4 linked regions of the Homo sapiens genome follow. The protein of the gene in region 3 purifies or fractionates together with the protein of the main gene of each other region. This does not show direct contact. Each region holds a gene or a part of one and is shown on either strand. Other genes may lie near its edges. The genes, in order: DNAJA1, NCL, LRRK2 and HSP90AB1.

The links.
Region 1: the proteins of LRRK2 (region 3) and DNAJA1 purify together in Homo sapiens (co-immunoprecipitation; 4 studies listed by BioGRID and IntAct, with this or other methods). This does not show direct contact.
Region 2: the proteins of LRRK2 (region 3) and NCL purify together in Homo sapiens (co-immunoprecipitation; 3 studies listed by BioGRID and IntAct, with this or other methods). This does not show direct contact.
Region 4: the proteins of LRRK2 (region 3) and HSP90AB1 purify together in Homo sapiens (co-immunoprecipitation; 6 studies listed by BioGRID and IntAct, with this or other methods). This does not show direct contact.

What each region holds. Positions count from the first base shown.
Region 1 is NC_000009.12:33,021,102-33,028,273, reverse strand, and holds the start of DNAJA1 (dnaJ homolog subfamily A member 1), read right to left. Parts: upstream 3,002-7,172; 5' UTR 2,891-3,001; intron 1,800-2,890; 5' UTR 1,790-1,799; coding exon 1,658-1,789; intron 1,462-1,657; coding exon 1,284-1,461; intron 1-1,283.
Region 2 is NC_000002.12:231,461,477-231,469,325, reverse strand, and holds the start of NCL (nucleolin), read left to right. Parts: upstream 1-4,841; 5' UTR 4,842-4,972; coding exon 4,973-4,990; intron 4,991-6,009; coding exon 6,010-6,126; intron 6,127-7,308; coding exon 7,309-7,786; intron 7,787-7,849. UniProt on the Homo sapiens protein: Nucleolin is the major nucleolar protein of growing eukaryotic cells. It is found associated with intranucleolar chromatin and pre-ribosomal particles. It induces chromatin decondensation by binding to histone H1.
Region 3 is NC_000012.12:40,360,982-40,368,012, forward strand, and holds part of LRRK2 (leucine-rich repeat serine/threonine-protein kinase 2), read left to right. Parts: exon of another isoform or gene 1-2,203; intron 2,204-2,420; coding exon 2,421-2,573; intron 2,574-3,860; coding exon 3,861-4,069; coding exon of another isoform or gene 4,070-4,152; exon of another isoform or gene 4,153-6,024; coding exon 6,025-6,096; exon of another isoform or gene 6,097-6,662; coding exon 6,663-6,784; 3' UTR 6,785-7,031. UniProt on the Homo sapiens protein: Serine/threonine-protein kinase which phosphorylates a broad range of proteins involved in multiple processes such as neuronal plasticity, innate immunity, autophagy, and vesicle trafficking.
Region 4 is NC_000006.12:44,250,089-44,254,402, forward strand, and holds the end of HSP90AB1 (heat shock protein HSP 90-beta), read left to right. Parts: coding exon 1-66; intron 67-202; coding exon 203-511; intron 512-959; coding exon 960-1,125; intron 1,126-1,329; coding exon 1,330-1,520; intron 1,521-1,648; coding exon 1,649-1,796; intron 1,797-1,910; coding exon 1,911-2,179; intron 2,180-2,956; coding exon 2,957-3,290; intron 3,291-3,400; coding exon 3,401-3,510; 3' UTR 3,511-3,795; downstream 3,796-4,314. UniProt on the Homo sapiens protein: Molecular chaperone that promotes the maturation, structural maintenance and proper regulation of specific target proteins involved for instance in cell cycle control and signal transduction. Undergoes a functional cycle linked to its ATPase activity.

The sequences.
Region 1 (7,172 bases), on a different chromosome or scaffold from region 3:
GCTGAAACAAGAATAGATAGATGGCAGGCAACGAACCAGTTTTCAGCCCTGGCTCTGTTGGCTTGCTATATGAGCTTGAAGAAGTTTTAGGTTTCTGAACTTTAACTTACTCCCATTTGAAAAAGGCCACTGTACCTACCATCAAATTCCTTTGGGGAGTGAGGGAACACCAAATAAGATCTGTAAAAAGGGCTTGGAAAATTATATTGCTATATACTTTGTCTTTTTTTTTTTTTTTTTTTTTTTTTGAGACAAGAGTCTCGCTGTGTTGCTCAGGCTGGAGTGTAATTGGGCGATCTCAGCTCACTGCAACCTCCACCTCCCGGGTTCAAGCGACTCTCCTGCTTCAGCCCTCCTGAGTAACTGGGATTACAGGCACGCACCACCATGCCTGGCTAATTTTTGGATTTTTTTGGGTTTTTTGTGACAGAGATTCACTCTTGTTGCCCAGGCTGGAGTGCAGTGGCGTGACCTCCGTTCGCTGCAACCTCTGCCTCCAGGGTTCAAGCGATTCTCCTGCCTCAGCCTCCAGAGGAGCTGGGATTGCAGATGCCCACCACCACGCCCAGCTAATTCTGTAGTTTTGTAGAGATGGGGTTTCACCATCTTGGCCAGGCTGGTCTCGAACCCTGACCTCAGTGATCCACCCACCTCGGCCTCCCAAAGTGCTGGGATTACAGAATGAGCCACAGCACGCGGCCTGTTCTCATAATTTGTTTGATAATATCTAAGATTTTTGGAAGCAGTCATTTGCTACCACTCTGTTGGCTATTTTTTAGGCCCCTTAAATCTCATTTTAAAAAAAGCGACACCACTGGCTGGGCATGGTGGCTCACACCTGTAATCCCAGCACTCTGGGAGGCCAAGGCAGGTGGATCACCACCTGAGGTTTGCAGTTCAAGACCAGCGTGACCAACATGGTGAAACCCCATCTCTACTAAAAATACAAAATTAGCCGGGTTTGGTGGCACATGCCTGTAATCCCAGCTACTTGGGAGGCTGAGGCAGGAGAATCGCTTGAACCCGGGAGGTGGAGGTTGCTGTGAGCTGAGACCACGCCATGGCTCTCCAGCCTGGGCAATAAGAGGGAAACTCCGTCTCAAGAAAAAAAAAAAAAAAACCACAACAAAAAAACACGACACCATAAATCAGAGGCAATTTGTGGTCAGTTTGCAACATTATACCAACATGTAAACAAGCATTTAAAATGGGTGATTTCTCAAAGATCTGCTCTGACCAACAGCTAACTTTAGTTAGCTGCACAAAGACTAGATTCTTCTTACCTCTCCTTTCTCTCTGCATCCTTCCTCCTCCTCCAAAAAACATATCAAAGATGTCCATGGGGGAGCCAAAACCGCCACCTGCTCCACCCTCTTTAATTGCCTGTTCTCCTCCTTTGTCATATAATTCCCTTTTCTTTGCATCAGAGAGAACTTCGTAAGCTTGAGAAATCTGTTTAAACTGTTTGAGAAAAGAGGAGTGAATTTCATTTTTTAAAAAACAAGTGTTACCTAGCTACATTACACTTGATCTTAGCTAAAAAGGCCGAGAAGTGATCATAGTTACTATATTAGATACTCGATTTCAGGCCATAATAGAAATACTATACGTCTGGCAAAGAACTATTCAGATACGTTTAAGAGTAGATACTATTCACCTTCTCTCCTTCATTTGGGTTCTTATCAGGATGGTACTTCAAAGCCAGTTTCCTATAAGCCTTTTTCAATTCTTCCTGAGTAGCATTGGGTTTGACCCCCAAAACATCGTAGTAAGTTGTTTCTTTCACCATCTTCTACTGCCTGAAATAAGAAAATGCAACTTTAACCGGCTTTCAACTGGTAGCTTTTAATAAAAAAGAGAGCTAAGGCCGAGCAATCTCTTTGCAAAATCCGATTATAAGAACACCACCTTCCCTAAATTTCACCAAAAAGGTAACAATTCCTGCGATAATTCAGCTATAAACTCGAACAGACAAAACAAATAATCATTATCGGGAAATAATCTGAGAGCCGCCTTCTAGCAGCTGGTTCCAATTTTCCTACACCAAAGCTTCCATACTAATATAACACAACTATTATCTGGATTCTTCCCGTTTGCCCTAGAGGCGGTGACAGTTGTAACCAAAAGAAGCACTGATATGTTCAGTCTACCGGTCATTACACTATCACTGTCTTTGGCAAATCTGATAAACTCCATATACTCTCCAGAAAAAGACGTCTGGGCACACAGTGGTGGGGGGGAGTGGTTTATAGAACAGGTTACTGGCTCCACACAGCAAGCCCTCCACCGCCCACGGCTTACAGCTTCTCCAGCCGAATCCCTCTCGCCCCTCAGGCTGGCAGAGTTTACCTGCCAGGTTTCCCCTTGCACTTGGCGCTGACCGATTTCCTTCCTTTCTCCCTCCCACCCTGGACCCAAGTGGCGGTGGGGAAAGCCCAGCCCTCAACAAACAAAGGGAGGGGAAACAGAGAAAGCGAAACCAAAAGCCGCAGTCTCCGCCCGGCTCCCCCCGCAGCCCCTCGCCCCTGCCTCCCTGTGCGCGTGCGCAGGGTCGCCAACCCCACTCCCCCCCCCCACCCCGAGCGAGCACGGACGGGGAGGGGGGCCGCGGGGGCGCGCACGGAGGGGCAGCCGAAGACAGTAGCTCCTTGGAGATCCCAGGCTGGGGAAGGAGGGAGGTCTAGGAAAGGTCTCGGGCCCATTCACTGTGCGTGCCGGGGATGGGTTGCCAGGGCACCACACCAGCCCTCCAAAAGGGAAATCGTGGGCCCAGGAACTGACAGCGGTCCTACCCACGCGGCCAACTGCCTCCCGACCGCGGCTCCATCGGTTTCCCGGCGCCAATGGCGCCAGCCAGGGGACTAGGGGCAGCGCGAGGGCTCAAACTCACCGGTGCGGGCTGAGGCCGGTGTGTGAGGGAGCGGGAAGGAGCGCCGAGCTGTGCGCAGCCGGGGTAGTTACCGCTCCTCCGCCTCTCACCGAGCGTTCTGGAAAGTTCCGCCCGGCGCGCCGCAGCCGTCCTCTTTTGTAGCCGAACCCGGGCGCGTCACCCGCCGGAAGTCCCGCCCTTCTCGGCCGCTGCCACCGCCCCGCCGTTACCTGGGCAACGGCGCGGGGGCGCACGGGTCGGGAGGAGCTGCGCCGAAAGGCCTTGTGGGTGTTGGTGCTAGCGCGGCTTCCCGGCGCTCGTGGAATCTTCTGGAGCCCTTTTCTCCACTCAGCGAGCCTGAGAGTGCGGAAGTCTCCGGCTGGTGGGGCATGGCCCAGGAGCACTGCAAGTCCTAGGGTTCCCAAACCTGTGGGGTGGCCGCCTGGGCCCGCGAGGGCGGGAAGGGCTCGAGTACAGTGACCCAGCGGGAGCTGTGTGTGAACGGGAAAGCTCTTGGAACAGTCTTGCCCCCCCCCCCCCCCCTCTTACGGGCGCCTCTTCTCTTTTTGGGAACGTGGCGAGCAAAAAATGCTTGAGCCAGGTGGGTCTAGTCCCCAGACCAATAGCATAGGCCTTGGGTCTTGCTGTTTTTCACGCGTGGTCCAAGGCGGCATAATTAATCAAATTGTGAAGTTGTTAAGGCTTTTTGTGCAAGTCCAGGCCCCTAGACACATGTTATCTGCCCTGGACCTCGCTGATTCGTGCAGATTGAGCTCAGTGTGTCTGGGACTGAGCTAAACAGTGAGACGTTTGGACCGTCTTTGATGTACAGAGGGCCGTGGACTCCTCTGGTCAGGTTTTCACCCAGTTTGGCTACAGAGTAGCCGCAAGAGTGTCTGACTAAAACAATTTGTTTAATTATTTGACCTCACTTTTAAATCCTACGGGTCAGGGAACCTGGATGTACAATCTGCAACGTAAGACCTCGGACTTGAAAATGGTACCACGGGGGCTTAATGGGAATTGGGGTCCGCTTCTTTATCCAGGGACACAGCAGGTATGTCAGTATCTAGCACCAAGAAAGATGGAGTTTGCCACGCTCGGTGGCTCACGTGTGTAATCCCAGCACTTTGGGACGCCAGCGTGGGCTGATTGCGTGAGCTCAGAAGTTTGATACCAGCCCAAGCAACATGGTGAAACCCCGTCTCGATTTAAAACAAAAACAGAACTGGAGATGCAGAGTTGAAAAGCCCCAGTTAGACTTTAGTGAGAAGCCAAACAAGTCAACAGACTGCCAGAGAAACCATGAGGTAGAAGTCAGTAGGGGAGAGCCTCCTATATTAACCTGATAGATCAGAGAGAATTTCTTTGGGAAAGTGGCAATTGAGCTGAGTTTTGAAAATGGGAGGAGAGCAGTGGACAAAGCACAGGGGAAGGCTATACTAAGGTGTGGAAGAATATGATGTTTTTAGGAAATTGCAACTAATTGGATATAGCCATAGCTAAGGGAGCTAGAATAGCCGGAGGTGAGGCTTCAAAGCTAGTTAGGGCATGCCTTTGTCTGTTGGTATATATGCTACGCTAAGAATTTTGAACTTTATCCTTGGAAGCATCCTCATGCTGCCTCTTCAGCCTTTTCTCTTTCATTAATTTTAACTGTGCATTCCAGTCACAGAACTATCCGCAGTTTCCCATATACGCCTTTTCACCTTTGTATGCTTTTGCATTGGCTGACAGACACCTGATTTTTTTCAATCTTAGGTGTTGCCTTCTCAAGTATCACCTCTGGTATAAAGTTTTTTGTTTAAACCAACCGTTAATAAACGTCTAATATTACCAGGCAGTGTACTAGGGCTTTGTAATACAAAAATCACGTAAGTCAGGCCGGGCGCCGTGCCTCACACCTGTAATCCCAGCACTTTGGGAGGCCAAGGTGGCGGATCACCTGAGATCCGGAGTTCTAGACCAGCCTGGCCAACTTGGTGAAACCCTTCTCTACTAAAAATAGAAACAATTAGCCAGGTATGGTGGCACGTGCCTGTAGTCCCACCTTCTCAGGAGGCTGTGGCAGGAGAATCGCTTGAACCTGGGAGGCGGAGGTTGCAGTGAGCAGAGATGGTGCCGCTATACTCCAGCCTGGTTGACAGAGCAAGACTCTGTCGAGTCTCAGAAAAAAAAAAAAATCACATAAGTCGTGGTCCCTGCCTTCAAGGAGCTCACAACATAGGGAACCAGAAACAAACAGTTGAGTGTTAAATGCTAATAAAGGAAGAGTAGGGGGTGCATGGTGGCTCAAGCCTGTAATCCCAGCACTTTGGGAGGCCAAGGCAGGCGGATCCCTTGAGTCCCGGAGTTTGAGACCAGCCTGAGCAACATAATAAGACCTCGTTTCTACAAAAATTAGAGTTAGTGTGGTGGTGTGGGCCTGTACTCCCAGCTACTTGGGAGGCTGAGGCAGGAGGATGGACCTGGGAGGTCAAGGCTGCAGTGAGTGGTGATTGCACCACTGAACCTCAGCCTGGACGACAGAGCAATACCCTGTCTAAAAACGAAACTAACAAAAAAGTTAACACTTTTAAGAAGCATTCTTACGTAAAATAAAATAAAAAAACTGGCAATAACTTTGTATGTGGTCTTCGTTTGTACAGAAATGGGATCATTATACAAGCTGTTTACAGCTTGCCCTTTTCACTTTGTCATCTTACTATGCCAGGATAAATAACTAATCTGCCTTGTTATTTTTAATGGCGTAGTATGTAGGCACCGTAATTTATTCCCCTACTGATGAATATTTCAGCAATTTCCAGTGTTTTACAAACTGCTGCAGAGAAATTAGCAAATACAGCTTTGAGTACTCATGCAAGTATTTCTGTTGGATGGACAGCTAGAATTGAAATTGCTGAGTCAACATGAATGTAGATTTAAAATTGTAATAAATAAGTTTCCATACTGGTTTGTAACTGCTTCCAGCAGTGTGTGAGTGGGCCTTGCCAATATGAGGGCCTTTTGTTGTTAAATCTTTGCTAAGCTTGGAGATAAAAAGTGATATCTTATTGTTTCGAGTTTCTTTGTTAGTAAGTTTAACCATGTTTTAAATGTTTACTGACTCTCCTGTCAACTGTTCATATTATTTTACCATTTTTCTGTGGTGTAATTCCACTATTTTAATAATAGCCCTTTTAGGGGTAGATATTAGTCTGTCATGTGTTACAATTGTTTTCTTTAGTATATTCTTCGCTTTTTACTTAGTATCTATATATATATTTTTCGGCCATATAAAGATTTTAATTTTTATGTAGATAAATTGTGACTCTTCCTTTTTGGCCTTTTTCTTCTCTCCACCTTCCCCTTCATCAGTCCAGCATTATAAATATAAATCTGTTGTCCCAGGTTTACAGGTTAGGTCTAGTACTTTCATTGTTTCCCTTTTTTTTTTTTTTTTTTAAATTAACAGCCTTGATGTGTTGCCCAGGCTGGCCTCGAACTCCTAGGCTCAAGTGATTCTCCTGCCTCAGCCTCTTCAGTACTTGGGACTACAGACACCTGCCACTGCATCTGGAATCATTGTTCCATTTTAAACTTAAATTTTTTATTCCATCTGAAAGTTATTTTGGTGTAAGGACTGAGGATTATTTGTAAGTAACTGATCTTTATTTTTCTCCAAATGGCAAACTAGTTTGTCTAACACTAATCTTATTTTTCCTGACTAATGTGAAATCCGCCCCCCAACCTTTTTTTTGTATGTGCAGAGATAGGGTCTTCCTATGTTGCCCAGGCTGTTCTTGAACTCCTGGGCTCAAGCAGTTGTCCTGCCTTGGTGTCCCAAAGTGCTGGTATTATAGGCGTGAGCCACCACACCTGGCCACCACTTTTAATGTATACTTAATTTCCACTGAAATACATGGTACTACTTCCCTTCATTGTTCTTGCTTTTTAGAATATTCCTTGTATTTTTTTTAATATGTTTATTCTTCCAGAGGAACTTAGGAATATTTCTGGCAGATTCCCCCCAAATCCCATTGTGAGTTTTATTGTGATTACAGTGATTTTATATATCAGTTTGGAGAGAATTAACACATTTAAAATGTCGAATCTTCCTACTCATGAACATATAACTGTATATTTATTTTCTTCATTTTTTAAACTAGGTCTTCATCATTTCTTCTTAAATGTGTTACTAGGCATTTTTTGTTGTTGCTGTCATGGATGGCCTCTTTTCTTACCATTATATTTTATTTCAGTGGGATATTTCATACTTTCTTTTTTTTTTTTTTTGAGACAGAGTTTCTCTCTTTTTGCCCAG
Region 2 (7,849 bases), on a different chromosome or scaffold from region 3:
GCAGGTGGCAGGCCAGGCGTGGTGGCTCACGCCTGTAATCCCAGCACTTTGGGAGGCTGAGGCAGGCGAATCAGGAGATCAGGAGATGGAGACCATCCTGGCTAACACAGTGAAACCCTGTCTCTACTAAAAATACAAAAAATTAGCCAGGCGTGGTGGTGGGTGCCTGGAGTCCCAGCTACTCGGGAGGGAGGCTGAGGCAGGGGAATCGCTTGAACACAGGAGGCGGAGCTTGCAGTGAGCCGAGATTACGCCACTGCACTCCAGCCTGGGCAACAGAGCAAGACTCTGTCTCAAAAACAAACAAATAAAAAATACAAAAAGTAGCTGGGCGTGGTAGCAAACGCCTGTAGTCTTAGCTACTTAAGGGACTGAGGTGGGAGGATCACCTGAGCCTGGGATGTCGAGGCTGCAGTGAGCTGTGTTAACACCACTGGACTCCAGCCTGGCCAACAGAGTGAGTCCAAAAACACACACCCACACCCCCACACACCCACACACCAAAAAACACAAAAAAGTGGCGAGTGACAGCTGAGGAGATCACTGTAGTGGGAACCCCAGGAGGGGGTGAGGAGGGGCTCGCTGGCACAGGGGAAGGGGTGCTATAGAGAAAGACTCTGGTTTCCTTGGGGCTTTGGAGTGGCAGAGAGAGCTCAGGATGTCTGCAAATGTATAGAAATCAGAGGGTGGGAATCCCTCTGGGAGGTTTGTCCTTCCCTATGAAGGAGAAGATAGAGTAACTCTGTTGACAGGGAGGGCAGAGAAGGAGAGGTGAGGGGCCTGAGGGAAGAGGCTTGGCATAGAGGCTGGGGAGAGGGAAATGAGAGCGTTCAGGAGCTCCTGGAAGATGATCTGGGCTAGCAGCTGGGGCTGCTACCAGGGCAGCTGCTGGGAGGGCAGGGCATTTGGAGGCCCCAAATCTGCATCATCACAGATTTCTCTCCAGCAGGGCCCAACCTCCTGGATGGAGAGGCCTGGGAGGTGCAGCAGGGAAGTTGGGGATGACGTTGATCTGGGGCCCACAACACCCTCCTCCAGCAGGCTCAGGGGCCTGCAGTTGTTGGCAACGGGCTGACTCTACCTCTGGGTGAACAGGTGAAGCTTCTCGGGCTGCCTCGGGAAGACAAAGGCTGGGTTCTCTGGCTCCGGCTCCTGGGACCCTGAGACACAGATGCCTCCTCTGGGAAAGGCTCGCTAACACACTAAGCAAGGCCTGGCAAGGGAGGAAGAGCTTAGGGTCCCCCTTTGACATCTGGGGGAAAGTGTTGGGGAAGATCTGGGCAGTATCCAAAGGCCTCAGTGAACCCAAAGACAGAAGGAAGACAGAAGGAGGCTGGACTGGTAAAGGGAACTTCATAGCAGACACCCCAGGCCTTCACACTCAGCAGACCTGGAGCTCTGGAAGCTGAGGCTGTGAACTCCCTCCCGGCCAGCTGGGGTGCCCAGCCCTGCCCTGCTCGGCCTACATGGCAGGGACTCACCCTGCAGGCTTTGTGGGCTGGGTGCTGGCTGGGTCTGGCCAGCCCTACCTGCAACTCAGGGGGAGGAGCAGGGGAGACACAGGATGTCCCCAACCTCCTGACCTTCTGAAGCTTCCCTGGCATCAGCCCGGGCCCTCATCATAGCCTTCAGTGGAAGAGCCTGGAAGGGGGGCAGCTGCTTCCTGCTCAGTCCCCTCGGCTTCTCAGCAATTCTATCCCTCATGTCACCACGTCCCTGCGCTAAGCTCCCTCTTTTTTAAATACTCAATGTGATTTTTCTTGGCTAGTTGGAGCCTAACTGAGACACTTATTTCCTAGAAGCCCAGTCCTGGGAAGTGGAGTTAATCCTTGGAAGCCTGCAGACCCCCTCCAGTGGGCTGTCAGATCCTAGCATGAGTATGAGGCCCACTATGGCCTACTGGGTCTCAGGGGTCAGAAGTGCCCATGGGTGTCCCAAGTGGGTGCCTCACTACACAGGTTTCATGGGGGGCAGCCAGACCACAGCAGCAGACAGAGTTGGGCCGGGTCCATGCAGGCCCAAAGAAGCAGCCAGTGGCCACTCAAGGCAGTGGTATCCCTGCAGCTTCTTGGCTGGTGTCTGAGACTAGTCACACTCCCCACAATAATTAGAGCCATGCTCACACCTCTCACCACCATCTAGTTCTTCCTCTGCTAAAACGTGGAGCACTGTCTCCCAGCCTTGGAGCTCAGGGGCAGCAGATAATCTGAGCCAGCTGGAGCAGGTGGGGTCGCTCTTGGCTGGAACGGCCATGGAAAACCCCAACCAAAGACAGCACTTGGGAGAACATCTATGAAAATGTGAAAGTCCATACCCTTGACCCAGCTGTTCTACAGATATGATTTGTGTAAAATAACGTAAGTGAGAATATTTGCTATAGCAGTTTGTAATGGCCAAACATAGCAAAAAACCCTAACTATCCAGCAATGGTGACTAGATAAATTGTGATCCTTCCACACAAGGAATGCCATGTAGCTATTAAAAAGAATGAGGCAGCTCTACATGTGCTGATGTAGGATGAGTTACAAGATACATATAGTTAACACAAAAGAAGAGCTCAGAACAGTGTATATGATAGCGTTTGTATTAAATATAACAAATATACTTGTCTATTTGCACGTACGGCTGAATCTGGAAGGATATACAAGAGACTGCCACTGCCTTGAGACTGGGAGGCCTAGGGGACAGGAACGGGAGGGAGACCTTTTATTGTGCATCTGTTTGAATCTTTTGAATTTTGCACTATGTGTATACTTTACAATTCAATAAATACTCATGTTTTCAAAAGAAAACAAAAAAGCATTTAGAAACAAACAGGCCAGACGTGGTGGCTCACCTTTGGGAGGCTGAGGAGGGAGGATTGATATAGCTGGGGATGTCAAGGCTGCAGTGAGCCATGATCCTGCCACTGCACTCCAGCCTGGGTGACAGAGTGAGATTCTGTCTCAAAAAAAAGAAACTGGGATGACACAGCAGTGTCTTCACTTATATCCTACGCCTCCACTGCTAGCTATGCGACCCTGGACAAGTTAATTTACCTCTATGTCCCAGTTTCTGTAAAACAGTGGTAACTTTTTGGAAAGGTTATTTTGAAGAGTAAGTTAATTAATATGTAAAGAGCTGGAAGAGCGCCTGGCACTGAATCAGCATTATGAAGTGTTAGATATTGCTATTTTGCTGCCCCAGACCAACTCCAAAGCAACGCCACTTGAGCCATGCCGGCTCTCCCTGCTGCTGCTTCTACCTAAATACTTCATTCATTTAACAAATAATTTTATTTTCTTTCTTTTTTTTTTTTTTGAGATGGGGTTTCGCTCTTGTTCCTCAGGCTGGAGTTCAATGACGCGATCTCGGCTCACTGCAACCTCCGCCTCCTGGGCTCAAGCGATCCTCTCACCTCAGCCTCCCGAGTAGCTGGGACTCCAGGCGAGCGCCACCATGCCCGCTAATTATTTTTTGTGTGGAGACAGGGTCGCATTATATTACCCAGGCCGGTCTCAAGTTCCTGGACTCAAGCGATCCTCCTGCATCAGCCTCCCAAAGTACTGGGATTACAGGCATGAGCCATCGCACCCGGCCTTAACAAATGCTTTTCTTTCTGAGACGGAGTCTCGCTCTGTCGCCCAGGCTGGAGTGCAGTGGGCGATCTCGGCTCACTGCAACCTCCGCCTCCCCGGTTCATGCGCCTCGGCCTCCCAAAATGCTGGGATTGCGGATCTGAGCCACCGCGCCCGGCCTGAGGTGATTTTTAACAAGTACAGCCGTAGCTGCAGATATCCTGGTTCTGTAGGAACAATGAGGTATGGATGGATCCATAGCTGGACCTATGGATGGGATGGATCCCCGGCAGGCCCTGGACGGAGGGAAATGCTCTGGTTTGCTAAGCCCGGCATCGAGTGAGACCCACCCACAAAGCTAACCGTGGAAGTCACTGGCGGCCTCCTTCGCCCTGCCGCCGGGGAACCCTGCCGGTGGCTCTCGACCTGCTCCCGGGCCATCTGGTGACACTGACTTCGCAGCCACCACCTTAATTGGCGCATTCGACCCAAATAATAACCAGGGAACCTGTGGGCGGTCAAAGGCCCGGCTCTGCGGTCGGCCCTCCCAGGCCCCTCTCCCTGCCCTGTGAGGCCAGAAAGTTACTTCTCCGAGGCCGTTCCCCATGTCGAGAAATATCTCCCGCTTGAGGTTCTGTGGGGTAGGGGAGGTTCGTGCATTTCTCACAGAAAACCTCGCACAGACCCGCGACTGCCTTTATTAACAGCTCTCAGGAGACTGCCTGCAGCCGGGGGGTGCCTCCGGCCCCATGCTCGCGGGCAAGCAGGGATAAGCTGTGCCTCCAAAAGGGCCAACGGGAACTCCGCGGTCCCTGAACTTCCGGTGCTGGCGGACTCCTCGCTCCAGGGCCACCAGGAGCCGCGGCGTGAGTGCGTGCCGGGACCGAGCGCGGGGTCTCTGAGGAACTCCAAGGCTGCCCAAGCCTACGGACCCAGCCACATTGGCGAACCGGAGACCGCCCGATTCCACCACCCCCGCGCTCCCCTCACAGCCGGCGCCAAAAACGCCAGTCCCACGACGCAGGCCGGGACCCGCGCGCCCACGGCCCAATCAGCGCGGACCTTGCACAAAGCGAGCCCCGCCCCCACGGCGCCGTTGCCAGCCCCTCCCCCTCCCGTGGCCGCCTCGGCCCGCCTACTCCCCGCCCCGCGCCGTTCACGGTTAGAGGCTCGCGATTGGCTCATGGGGACGGCCGCGAGCTTTGGTTGGTCGGCGCGGAGTCACGAGGGCGCCGTCGTCGCCTTTCCACAGGCGATTACTGGGCAGGCTCAGTCTTTCGCCTCAGTCTCGAGCTCTCGCTGGCCTTCGGGTGTACGTGCTCCGGGATCTTCAGCACCCGCGGCCGCCATCGCCGTCGCTTGGCTTCTTCTGGACTCATCTGCGCCACTTGTCCGCTTCACACTCCGCCGCCATCATGGTGAAGCTCGCGAAGGTAAACGGCCTTGAGCGCGAGCGCAGACGTGTAGGCCTGCTTTCCGAGGGGCGAGCGCGGCGCCGCGGGGAGGAGGGCCTGCGCGCAGTCCCGGGCGCGTTCTAGGGCGCCATGCTGCGGGAAGTCTCGCGCGATTAGTGGGGAGGTCTCGCGGCTTCTGGCTACTTGGTGGCGAGGTGAAGAGCTTCTGCAGGTGCTGGGGGCGGCGAACGCGGCGGGAAAGACAGAGTCACTGAGCGCGGGGAGGGGGCGCTGGGCCTCGGGGTGGAGAGATGAGACCAAACTTTTGCGACGCGTACGAGCTGGGACTCGACTCCTGACGCACGTGCCCGGGAGCGCGGCCTGCCACGTGGGCCGCGCCGCGTGGGTCCTGGAATCTCCAGAGGGACCGGGTGCCTTGGGCCGGGAAATGGCGGTATCGGCCCTAGTCGGAGTCCCGGCTGCGCTCGGATGTCTCCGCCCCGGCCTGGCAAGCCGACACGTGGTGGGCCCCGGAAGGTGGCTCTGCCGCGTGCCTTTTGCGCTGTGTTTCGGGCACGTGGTGGCCTACCAGGTACCCCCACGTGGCCGCGCCGCCTCTTTAAGGGGCGGGGTTGTCTCGCTGGGAAAGGCATAAGCTTCATGAGAAAATCAAGGTAGTCATTTTTTTAAGTGCCTTAATGATCTTCACCGTTAATTTGGATTCAGATGAGGGTGGTAGAATAAAGTACCGGGATTTGTAGTATTAAAACACGGTTGTGCTTAACTAAGGTAACGGGAGGAGAAATCATTTCCTCAGGTTGACTTTTTACCTTAGGGCAGGTTTTCTGTTGGTAAAGCCTGGGAGGAAAAATGTGGGCGGTTGAGAGTAGTCCCTCTTGCATTGCCATCAGGAGTAGTTTCTATGTTAGTTGTGGTGTTTGGCACTATGAGAAATGGATCTGAGGACGGAGATGATGGCGTATGAACACTAATGGCAAAATATGAATGGCCTGAAATGTCGAGGTGGAGGTGTAATGATCTATTTGTGTCCATTTTAGGCAGGTAAAAATCAAGGTGACCCCAAGAAAATGGCTCCTCCTCCAAAGGAGGTAGAAGAAGATAGTGAAGATGAGGAAATGTCAGAAGATGAAGAAGATGATAGCAGTGGAGAAGAGGTAATTTTATCCAACTTAATGCAGAATTATGTTAAAACTACAAAATGGAGAGTTAAGACATGAAATTGGATATCTGTGGCAAAAATAAGATTTTATTCAGGTATGTCTTATTGTAGTGGTTGAGTGTTTCACAAGCTCTTCATTGACATGTCAAGATGTCATTTGGCTAAGTATTTGAATGTGAGTGTAAGACGAGATCTGGGAATTTCTTTTACATGTTCCTCTGCAGGGCTTGGAGTGTGATTTGTTGTGTTAAATCATTACATTTTTCCAGTTTCAACATGTTAGCCTCACCCCCACATGTAGAGCTGGGCATTGTATTCAGAGCTGAGGATAACCTTACCAGATTCCTTTCCTAGCCTCCAATTAAAATTAATTGGTCTCCATTCCATTATATATAAACTTTGTAATACTACTCACTGTGTTTTATAGTTATCTCTGGTGTAGACTGAGGGCTGCCACCTCTCTTTGTGTTACCATTGACCCTCTTTAGCACTCCTGGCCTTTTATTTGCTCACTATAAAGACAGCTGAGCACTGAATTGTGCTCAGGTTTCTCGTTGAGAACTGAATGAAAGTTTTACTCTTCCACACATTGCCTGATAAAACTACGGGATTTTAATGTAGCTAAATGATGACTTTTATCAAACTACCATGCACACTCTTTGATGTGTGATAGTTTTGTAAGGAATATTTATATTTAGCCTATTCATTTTTTGTCTCAGGTCCTAAGAATTGAGCTTCACTGGGCTTGGTACCGCCACCCACTGTAGGAGCCCCAAATGATTTAATAAGTTAATGCTTGGAGCCTCCTATGTGTAAGGTTCTGAATAATTTACACATAGCAATTCATGATCCTTAAACATGTAAGGATGATACTATTACCATTTTCAGATGAGAAAGTTGGGGCTTGGGAAAGTATGAGGTGTAAGAATTCAGAGGGTCTGGTTCAGAGGTATTTTTAAGTGTTCAAAAGAGTTCCTTATGTCTGGGTATTCACCTTATGATAGGGGCTCTGACTTAAGACAACATAACAGAAGCCTGGAGTTTAACATGCTAATGTGTCTAGTGCATGTGGTCTTGAACCAGAGGCATTGCCAGAGTCTAACATCTCATTGGGACCATGGTTATCTTTTTGGGTGTGGGGCTGGACTTACTGGTTTGGTTTTCATTTATTCTCAAGGTCGTCATACCTCAGAAGAAAGGCAAGAAGGCTGCTGCAACCTCAGCAAAGAAGGTGGTCGTTTCCCCAACAAAAAAGGTTGCAGTTGCCACACCAGCCAAGAAAGCAGCTGTCACTCCAGGCAAAAAGGCAGCAGCAACACCTGCCAAGAAGACAGTTACACCAGCCAAAGCAGTTACCACACCTGGCAAGAAGGGAGCCACACCAGGCAAAGCATTGGTAGCAACTCCTGGTAAGAAGGGTGCTGCCATCCCAGCCAAGGGGGCAAAGAATGGCAAGAATGCCAAGAAGGAAGACAGTGATGAAGAGGAGGATGATGACAGTGAGGAGGATGAGGAGGATGACGAGGACGAGGATGAGGATGAAGATGAAATTGAACCAGCAGCGATGAAAGCAGCAGCTGCTGCCCCTGCCTCAGAGGATGAGGACGATGAGGATGACGAAGATGATGAGGATGACGATGACGATGAGGAAGATGGTAAGGAGTTGTCTTGGTAGTTACTGGGCTTCTGATTACAAGGTATCTTGAGATTCTGGGATC
Region 3 (7,031 bases):
GTTAAAGTAGTTTCTCAATACCACTAAATCTACTGGCTTTCAACATTGGCTGTGCATTTAGAAACCACTAGGTAGCTGAAAATAATATGATACCTGGGCCCTACCTCAGACCAATTAAATCAGACCAGTTAAGCCTGGGATGGGGATCAGATTTTTTTTTTCAGGTTCTCAAGTGATTCTAAAGTATATTTGAGGTTAAGATATACTGCGGAGTGCAGTGTATTATAAGTTCCCATGAATGAGGATTTTTATTTCTGTCTTTACATATTTATTTACTAGTATGTGGTTAACATTTGGATCAACTCATTCTCATTCTGTAATACCCACATTTTAAAAAATGAATGTAAAAATGTCTTTTATTATTTTTATTTTTCAAATTTAATTTTAGATTCCAGGAATACATGTGCAGGTTTGTTACAAAAGTATAGTGCGTGATGCTGAGGTTTGGAATACAACTGAACTCACAACCCAGAAAGTGGGCATAGTGCTTGATAGGTAGTTTTTCATCTTTGCTCCCCTTCCTGTAATTTCCACTTTTAACCCAATTATACAAGCCTGAAAACCTTTAAAAAGAAAGGGCCTCCAGTTTATTTTTTTATTTCATAGCACATTTTATGGGATTATGGATATCAGTTAACTCTTTAAAGTTCCATATAAGATTTGGAGCATAGATGCTTTACTAGAGAGCATCCATAAAGATCAAGCTCTCAAAGATGCTCATCTCCCAAAAGAGATTGGGACCTAGATGCATAAACACTTAAATATAAATATTTGCTCTCTTCTGAACAAGTATCTCCTGTGGCCTTGGTCTCTACCCCACAAAACAGACATCACATCACTAATCAGGGGTTGCCTCATCATCAGTACCCTCATCATCATCAGTACACACCGACTGAGAGGCATGTTGGGTAATGAAAGATGACTGCCTTTGAAGCCGGAAGACTCCATAGGACTTTTGGAGTTCTAGGTCTGCAACATGTTTTTAGTCCTAGGTCGGCAAGCATGATGTTAGTCATAGGACCTTGAGCAAATTATTTAGCATTTGTACATGTTTCTTTCTACTATTAAAAACATTGAGATTTATCATATTTTATGTTTTTTTATTAAGGATCAAGCAAGATAACACACAAAAGTATTTTATAAAATACGGAAATTCCATGCAAAACTTTGTCCTAATTGGAACTATTTTCTATTAAATACAGCAAATATCCAAGAAGGAATTACCTAAAGCGTAGTGGCTCTCTGACAACACATCATATTTTTACCTCCTTTTCCAGAATAGAAAGAAAAGGGGGAGGAAAAAAAATCTTCCTACTCTAGGATATACTAATGATTGTTAAATCTTTATGGTATTTTCATGTTATCTATCTGATTTAAATGCAATTTTGACTATTTTTACATATTCCTCGTTGTTCATTCATACTGTAGTGCCTTCTTCTATTCCCCCACTTAACAGACTGCTTGATTATATCAGAGGTGCTTATCTGTGCAACTGTTTACTGGACGAGGGGTATGTAGAAAATACATTGTCCTCATCCTTATGAAATTACACTCATAATCTAGTGTGAGGGATGCACTAATAAAGACAATTTTATATTTAATAAGGTCTATAATATGACAGTGACACCAGTGGGGAAAAGGGACTGGTTGGTCTATTTTGATAGGTCAGGGAAGAAATCCAGAGGAGCCGACATTTAAGTTCATCCTCAAAGGCCAAGTAGGAGTTTGCCATGCTGATGTGGCCCAAGGTAGCCAATCTGTTTGTGAAATATGTACAATGCCAGATGTCTTAGGTTGAAAGGGAAATATTTTAAGGTGTTCGTAATTTTTCTTTATGTTTAAAAGGGGAAAATGGCAAATATTTTACTTTCTGTTTATGTTTGGATGATGTGGATTTTTGTTTTCTATAATTTGACTGGCTTAACTGCAAAGATATCCCTTGCTTTAAAATTTGAAGACACTGCAACTAAATTTTATTTCAGCATTTTATATTTTATAACTCTAGGTATAAAAGGCTAACACTTAATTTTCTGAGCATTCATGAAACAAAGTTTTGCAAGAACATTCAAAAGTTACAGATATAATATTTCCTTCAGAAATTTAGATATAGTACAAAATTCTACAAAGAGCCACATAGAATTGAAACTAAAAGTAAGACCAAAGTAAACATTGGACATAATCTTTATTTTATTATCACAAGAAATTAATATAAAGTAACCAAAAGTAAGTAAAGTACCAAAGCATGTTATATATTCAATTCAGAATGGTTAGGGAAGAATATGAAATAATTGCAATAGTCTAGCTTGTTTAGTTTTCAAAATAGTGTTTTTACATTAAGAACTAATATAAGGTTGTATTACACGTAGAAATTTTAAGAAGAAAACAAATAGTGATGACTTTCTATTTTTTTTTCTCTGTAGGTTTTCTTATGCAGCTTTCAGTGATTCCAACATCATAACAGTGGTGGTAGACACTGCTCTCTATATTGCTAAGCAAAATAGCCCTGTTGTGGAAGTGTGGGATAAGAAAACTGAAAAACTCTGTGGACTAATAGACTGCGTGCACTTTTTAAGGTAAATTCTGTGGTTTTTAATTTTATTCCCAAAAGAATTATCTTTGCACTTCATGTGTCACAGAGGAAGGATTTTTCTTCCTTTCTGCCTCTGAATAGAGAATTTTTTTAAAATGCAGAAAAAAATTTGTAATGCTTCTCAGCACCATCTTTTCAGATCAAGAAAATTTTGTCTTCAGAACATAAAAGAATAGGCACATAATGTGCATAGTTTTCTCATGGTATTACAAAGAATGTTCTCGAATGAAAATACTACATTATTGAAAATGAGCATATTGGAGTCTCTGCTAGCTTTGACATAGTTCTGTCACAGTGTCAAATATACTATTTATAATTAAATTATGGGCCCCAGGATTATCTGCTCTAAAGAAAAAGAGTCACAAAATAATAGACAAATATGGGGGGAAATGCAATGGACTGACCGAGGCGCTAAGGAGTGGGGATCAAGACCCCAGAATGAGAGCATAGTGCTTAGTCTGATGCAGCCTGTGAGTGACAAATCCATAGCAAGCACATTCTTTCTGTGCTGGTGCTGAGAAACAGGACCATTTTCAAGCTTATTTGCTAGCCACTTTATATTTTTATTTTGTTTTGATTTTACCATATAGATCTATGATACTCTTGAGAACATTTTAGATTACACACTATATCTGTAAAAGGATACTTCAAAGTTTCCTGTCTTAGATTCATCTGACAGTTTTTCTATGGATTGTGAGAAGGGCTCACAGTTTATGTTCAGAAGGGCCAACAGGTCTCCTTGATAAAGGGTTCCTTACTTCCTGAAGTACCAAAACGATTAGGATTCTTTTATTTCTGGACACTTCATTTTTGTCATGAATTAGACTATTCACTGGTTCTGGGAAAAAATTCAGTGGTTTGTATCGATATCTTTTACATGTGAATGACTATAATTTTATGTTCCTTTGTAACATTGAGACTTCATGTAAAACTTTTGACTCTAACTTTTTTTTTTCTTTATCCTGGGCACATGTATGCTATTTTTACTGAATTAGATAGCTTTGGTATTTATAAAAATTGTATCCCTCTTATTCATAATTTCCTGAAAATGAAGGGCTATTGTTATCTTTGATAATTTATGCTTCAAGTAAAGAAGTGTGGCTCTTTGGCATCTGTATTTAGCAAAATTTGCTTTGTATAATTTTAATGATGCATAATGGTGGTGGTGTCATGTTTTAATAATTTAAAATGTTGTTTATGTTATCATATGTAAATAGCATTTATCTCTTAATTGGTGGTAAAATTATTAATGTATACTTTATGGTTCTAGGGAGGTAATGGTAAAAGAAAACAAGGAATCAAAACACAAAATGTCTTATTCTGGGAGAGTGAAAACCCTCTGCCTTCAGAAGAACACTGCTCTTTGGATAGGAACTGGAGGAGGCCATATTTTACTCCTGGATCTTTCAACTCGTCGACTTATACGTGTAATTTACAACTTTTGTAATTCGGTCAGAGTCATGATGACAGCACAGCTAGGCAAGTTTCTTTCCTTTAGATATTTTTCATATTCTCTAAGTCTTATAAAATATGCCTTTATTTTACGTTTACATTTTCTCTGAACTTTCCAGTGTCATATGGATGGTCTTGGAGGGTCACACAGTGAAACATAAGACTGGTATAAATTGTGAATAGGGTCATTACAGAAGTGGAGGGAGTAAATGCTCTCAGTCCCACAAGAGAAGCAGATTACTGCAGCTGAACACTCAGTTTGGGTCTTACTTGCTTTTTTCCTTTTTACCTAAGGCAAAAATGGGAAATACATGGTATTGAATATATTTTACTTTTTGAGCAAAGAAAATAAAGAAAATGTTTGTTTTAATCATAGTCTAGCCTCCCAGCTTGTTAAAGAATCTCATTTGGTTTTTCATTCTATAACAAATCTTTTTTCTTGCAGCAATACATGCTGAACTGCACAACCTACAAATATTGACAAATCATATTTTACTCAAACTTTGTCTTTTTTTGCTTCTATTTTTATATTTAAATATGATAAAATTGTGATAGCACATAAAATATATTTTCTGCATAAATATATTTGCGTCTTCCTTTGATAATAATTTGTTTTAGAAAATAACAATAATAGCATATATACAAAAGTTTACAAAAACGACACTATGGGGTTTAATTCTGAAAAAAACTAGAATTTATGTAACTTTAGCAAATAATGAATGTTTTGAACATGGTGAAGAAAATATATTCATTGCAAGTATATGTGAAAGAGGAACATGTGTTTTTCTAGCACCTTCACCTATTTTTCATTTATAGACTTTAGAGTTGCACAGGAGTTACAATTAGATGCTCTTAATGACTGTAAACTATTAAGATACATGTCCACACAAGCAGAGCAGTAGGTCTCTCAATAGGTTGTCTCAGTAGTCTTATTCTACCAAAGTTGTTGCATTCTCTAGTTGAATTGTATGTACTTTGGGACCCAAATAGCTTGCTTATAACTGAAGTTATAGTGGAATGTCTATGGGTTATAGTTTGATTTTAAAATAAAGATCAATTGGAGGATAGCCTACAAGGTGCTGCATGAGCTGGCTTCACTGTACCTCTCCTGCCTCCATCATCTACCACATTCCTACCAGATCTTGCTTGTCTAGATGAACATCCAGTTCTTCTCAATTACTATGCTATATTTTGCCTCAGGGATTTGCACATGCTGTTTATTTCTTTGCTTAGTTAACATAGCTTTTTTTCATGCTTATTTAACTCATATGCTTTGAAATGTTAGCTCCTGTGTCAAAACCTCTGAGAAGCCAACACTGATTAGGTCAAAGTTCCCGCTTTGGGTTCCCATAACAGCTTTCTTGCATAGTTTTGATCATGGTCATATTTTTTTTTCATTAATGCTAGTCTCTTCACTAGAATATAAACTCCAAGACGGTTGGGTTAGTGTGTTTTTGTTTACCCCTTTTTTCCCAGGATCTAGCCTAGGGCCTACATAGAAGACTTTTGATGCAAATTTGTTGAATAAATTAGTGAATGATTTGAAAAGAAAATATGATATTTTGACATAGTATCAGTATATCCATCCATCTAAGTGTCCATCTAAATACTCATATTTGTACTAAATACTCATATTTGTACCTTACCATATCCAAAGAACTTTTCACACACATTACCTCGTTTAACATTGTAACTTTGGGAAGGGTAATGTATAAATACTGAGCCTATTTTATAGAAAGGTTAAGCTGTTTTCTCAGACTCACATAATTAAGAATTGCAGCAAGGAGTGGATCACAGATTTTGTTATTTTTTAAAAAAATGCTGGTCTTTATTCAATATAATTGAAGGGTCACCTAGAAAATAGAATTGTGAATTCAGTTCCAAGGTATTTGTGTCTTAAACTATGAACAACTTTACTTTTTTTTCAGGCCAGTTTAATATATAGTTTTAACAGAAAACTTACATATTTTGTTTTTGTAAAGGAAGCCTTAAAAATGTCATGCTGGTATTGGGCTACAACCGGAAAAATACTGAAGGTACACAAAAGCAGAAAGGTAACATTTAGAAGGATACTGTTTTCCAAACAGGGCAATGATGTGAATGATGGTAACATATTATGTGTTTCATAAATTTGTAGAAAATATTACATATGGTATAATCAGGAATTTTAATTGGTAGTTTATAGTGTAAAGAACTTAGACATAAATTTTCAAAATTACAAGTGATATGAAGTGTTAAATATTTATATTTTCAGCTGAAGTAGAGGTGTCAATCACTAGCTCAACCTTAAACGAAATGTGAATATTTTTTACAACTTATCTATATCTACATAATGTCTAATTTTGAACAGTGTTTGAAAAAGCTTTTATTTCTTTTAGAATATGAAATGTTAATTTATTAAATGTTGATACTCTATTTGAAATTTAATAGTTTCTATAATGTATTATAAAACTTTTCCAAGTATAGTTTTTTATAAATAATAATTTAGTACATTAGTTATAGCTGTGTTTATATTTACATTTATCTAAGTCAACTAAAAATACATGAGCCAAACTGAAATAAAATAAGAATGTTTTATGATGGATCTTTGAAACATGATTTCATTTTTTTCTTTTTCTAGAGATACAATCTTGCTTGACCGTTTGGGACATCAATCTTCCACATGAAGTGCAAAATTTAGAAAAACACATTGAAGTGAGAAAAGAATTAGCTGAAAAAATGAGACGAACATCTGTTGAGTAAGAGAGAAATAGGAATTGTCTTTGGATAGGAAAATTATTCTCTCCTCTTGTAAATATTTATTTTAAAAATGTTCACATGGAAAGGGTACTCACATTTTTTGAAATAGCTCGTGTGTATGAAGGAATGTTATTATTTTTAATTTAAATATATGTAAAAATACTTACCAGTAAATGTGTATTTTAAAGAACTATTTAAAACACAATGTTATATTTCTTATAAATACCAGTTACTTTCGTTCATTAATTAA
Region 4 (4,314 bases), on a different chromosome or scaffold from region 3:
GAGAGGCGGGTCAAAGAAGTAGTGAAGAAGCATTCTCAGTTCATAGGCTATCCCATCACCCTTTATGTGAGTATGGACTTTTAAATCTTTTACACTTAACGTGCAGGATGTTTCCTGTTCTGGAGAATCTCATTGTCCCTGGCTTTTGCTTTCCCTGGTAGTGTTTTGTACTCCAAGGCTAACTTCTGTTTTTGTTACTTAGTTGGAGAAGGAACGAGAGAAGGAAATTAGTGATGATGAGGCAGAGGAAGAGAAAGGTGAGAAAGAAGAGGAAGATAAAGATGATGAAGAAAAACCCAAGATCGAAGATGTGGGTTCAGATGAGGAGGATGACAGCGGTAAGGATAAGAAGAAGAAAACTAAGAAGATCAAAGAGAAATACATTGATCAGGAAGAACTAAACAAGACCAAGCCTATTTGGACCAGAAACCCTGATGACATCACCCAAGAGGAGTATGGAGAATTCTACAAGAGCCTCACTAATGACTGGGAAGACCACTTGGCAGTCAAGGTGTGAGAAGCCTTTGCATGTTGGCTCAACATGCACATATGGAGAGGAATGAGTTAGGTGGAAGAGTGTTGGGTAATAGACACACGGAACTTGTCCAACTGATAACAGAAATGTGATAGCCATGTGATTTCACTTACTGATTACCCTGTCATAGTGAAGTGCCATCATTTCTAATGACCTCACTTTCTCTTCTTATGGAAATCTGGGTAATGTCTATTGGCAGCCTTACACATCCAGGGTTCTGATCAGAGGGGACTGTTTTCTACATACAGCTAGTACCCATCTAGATCGTGGAGGGCATTAAGGCTCAGTTTTCTCAGGAGCTGCTTGTTGTGTGTGCTCTATCCCTTAGGCTTAGGGAGGATCATTGTTCCACTTTTAGATAATTTGGTGTTGGGGCTAAAAGGTCCTCTTTTGAAATGTACCACTTATTTTTGGTTTCTTTCAGCACTTTTCTGTAGAAGGTCAGTTGGAATTCAGGGCATTGCTATTTATTCCTCGTCGGGCTCCCTTTGACCTTTTTGAGAACAAGAAGAAAAAGAACAACATCAAACTCTATGTCCGCCGTGTGTTCATCATGGACAGCTGTGATGAGTTGATACCAGAGTATCTCAGTGAGTATCTCCTTGGCCTAATTTAGTTGGGTGAAGTCTTGGGAGGTTTTAGGCATTCTGCTAGGATATTCTAAGGTAACAGTTTTCTGCAATACATAGTAGGTGTAAGGGTTCAGGAGGCTATTAGAGCCTTCTGTTTGAATCTGGGGACCAGGTCTGGTCTAGCTGTTTTTTACTGAGCTTTCTCACCCTGGTTGATGGCAGATTTTATCCGTGGTGTGGTTGACTCTGAGGATCTGCCCCTGAACATCTCCCGAGAAATGCTCCAGCAGAGCAAAATCTTGAAAGTCATTCGCAAAAACATTGTTAAGAAGTGCCTTGAGCTCTTCTCTGAGCTGGCAGAAGACAAGGAGAATTACAAGAAATTCTATGAGGCATTCTCTAAAAATCTCAAGGTAAAAAGGCAAATAATGCTTATTCCCTTTACCACTTTCTTAGTAATAACAATAAATTATTCCATTCACATTGAAAGTGAAGTTATTGTAGTTAAGCTGGATTGTTTTTCCTCTTCCCACCCTTCAAGCTTGGAATCCACGAAGACTCCACTAACCGCCGCCGCCTGTCTGAGCTGCTGCGCTATCATACCTCCCAGTCTGGAGATGAGATGACATCTCTGTCAGAGTATGTTTCTCGCATGAAGGAGACACAGAAGTCCATCTATTACATCACTGGTGCGTTGACTCTGATTGAAGCCTTTTTGGAGGAGTGGGGAGCACAATTAGGGCTTCCTGGGAACTGGCAGTATGAGGCATTTTAGTCACTGAGTTCATTTAATTACCCTACAGGTGAGAGCAAAGAGCAGGTGGCCAACTCAGCTTTTGTGGAGCGAGTGCGGAAACGGGGCTTCGAGGTGGTATATATGACCGAGCCCATTGACGAGTACTGTGTGCAGCAGCTCAAGGAATTTGATGGGAAGAGCCTGGTCTCAGTTACCAAGGAGGGTCTGGAGCTGCCTGAGGATGAGGAGGAGAAGAAGAAGATGGAAGAGAGCAAGGCAAAGTTTGAGAACCTCTGCAAGCTCATGAAAGAAATCTTAGATAAGAAGGTTGAGAAGGTAAGCCATTCTGGGGCTAGGATATATTTTGTAACATCTTCGAGGTGGGCTCCCTCACAAGCATGTTTCTATACAATTAGTGGTTTGAGGCAGCCTATTTACTGTTTCATGCCTTCTTGCCTCTTGTTCTCTTCTCTAGTCAGGTTTAAGGCTATTTTAATAAAATTTGGCACAGATTAGGCATTGCTTCAGTTAACTTCTGAGAGTAGATAAAATACCATCATTTTCTTTTTTTTTTCTTTTTTTGAGATGGGGTCTCGCTCTGTCACCCAGGCTGGAGTGCAGTGGCACGATCTCTGCTCATTGCAAGCTCCGCCTCCTGGGTTCACGCCATTCTCCTGCCTTAGCCTCCTGAGTAGCTGCCACTACAGGCGCCCGCCACCACACCCCGGCTAATTTTTTGTATTTTTAGTAGAGATGGGGTTTCATCGCGTTAGCCAGGATGGTCTCCATCTCCTGACCTTGTGATTCGCCCACCTCGGCCTCCCAAAGTGCTGGGATTAACAGGCGCAAGCCACCATGCCTGGCCGATTTTTTTTTTTTTTGGACTGGATCTCGCTCACTGCAAACTCAAGTCTCCTGAGTGGCTGGGATTACAGATGTGTGCTACCACACCCGGTTAATTTTTTGTAGACAGGGTTTTGCCATGTTGGCCAGCATGGTCTCAAACTCAAGTGGTCTGTCCACCTCCTCCCCCTGCTGGAATTAGGCTTGACAATGCCTGTTTTCTCTTTCAAAGTGGTAATGTCAATCTAAGGCTTTTGTGATCGTCCACAGGTGACAATCTCCAATAGACTTGTGTCTTCACCTTGCTGCATTGTGACCAGCACCTACGGCTGGACAGCCAATATGGAGCGGATCATGAAAGCCCAGGCACTTCGGGACAACTCCACCATGGGCTATATGATGGCCAAAAAGCACCTGGAGATCAACCCTGACCACCCCATTGTGGAGACGCTGCGGCAGAAGGCTGAGGCCGACAAGAATGATAAGGCAGTTAAGGACCTGGTGGTGCTGCTGTTTGAAACCGCCCTGCTATCTTCTGGCTTTTCCCTTGAGGATCCCCAGACCCACTCCAACCGCATCTATCGCATGATCAAGCTAGGTCTAGGTAAGTAGCTTTGGTACTTGGTGTGGCAAGGAGTTTGTGCAACTCGTCTCCTCTATGGATTTGACTTAATGCTATTTGGTCAAGTCTCACATGGCTTAATTTTACTTCAGGTATTGATGAAGATGAAGTGGCAGCAGAGGAACCCAATGCTGCAGTTCCTGATGAGATCCCCCCTCTCGAGGGCGATGAGGATGCGTCTCGCATGGAAGAAGTCGATTAGGTTAGGAGTTCATAGTTGGAAAACTTGTGCCCTTGTATAGTGTCCCCATGGGCTCCCACTGCAGCCTCGAGTGCCCCTGTCCCACCTGGCTCCCCCTGCTGGTGTCTAGTGTTTTTTTCCCTCTCCTGTCCTTGTGTTGAAGGCAGTAAACTAAGGGTGTCAAGCCCCATTCCCTCTCTACTCTTGACAGCAGGATTGGATGTTGTGTATTGTGGTTTATTTTATTTTCTTCATTTTGTTCTGAAATTAAAGTATGCAAAATAAAGAATATGCCGTTTTTATACAGTTCTGCTTTCCCTTGTGAAGTGGATGTTATCCTTCCCTAGCTTCTTCATCCCTCCAGCTCTTGCTGTTTTCATGAGCACAGCAAGTTGAGCTGGTTTTGTAGTGAAAATAACAGAATACCAGTGAGTCTTAAGAGTTCACACACTGAAGCTAAAGGCAGTTTGGAAAAACTACCATATAATAATGCCCTTTCAGTCAACCAAAACACAGGACCAAGTCCACTGCAGTAATTTAATTTAATAAAATAAAATTATAAGAGCAAAAAGTTACATTTCTAAAGTACCAAAACCTGCAACAGGCTCATGGAACAGAGCCTAGGGATCCAGGAGCATAGGAGGTGGTGGTGCTGGGCAGGGCTCTGCATCCCCTTTCCTCAGCACAGCACCATCTTCACCCTCCTGGGAAAGCAGCATTGGAGCCTACACCGCTTGTGCTTTTCTCACCAGGGTAAGAAATGCAGGTATTTGCAGAGGGGAGTGAGTCTGGAAGGTGGCAGAGCACAGCTAGGGCAAGACTTAA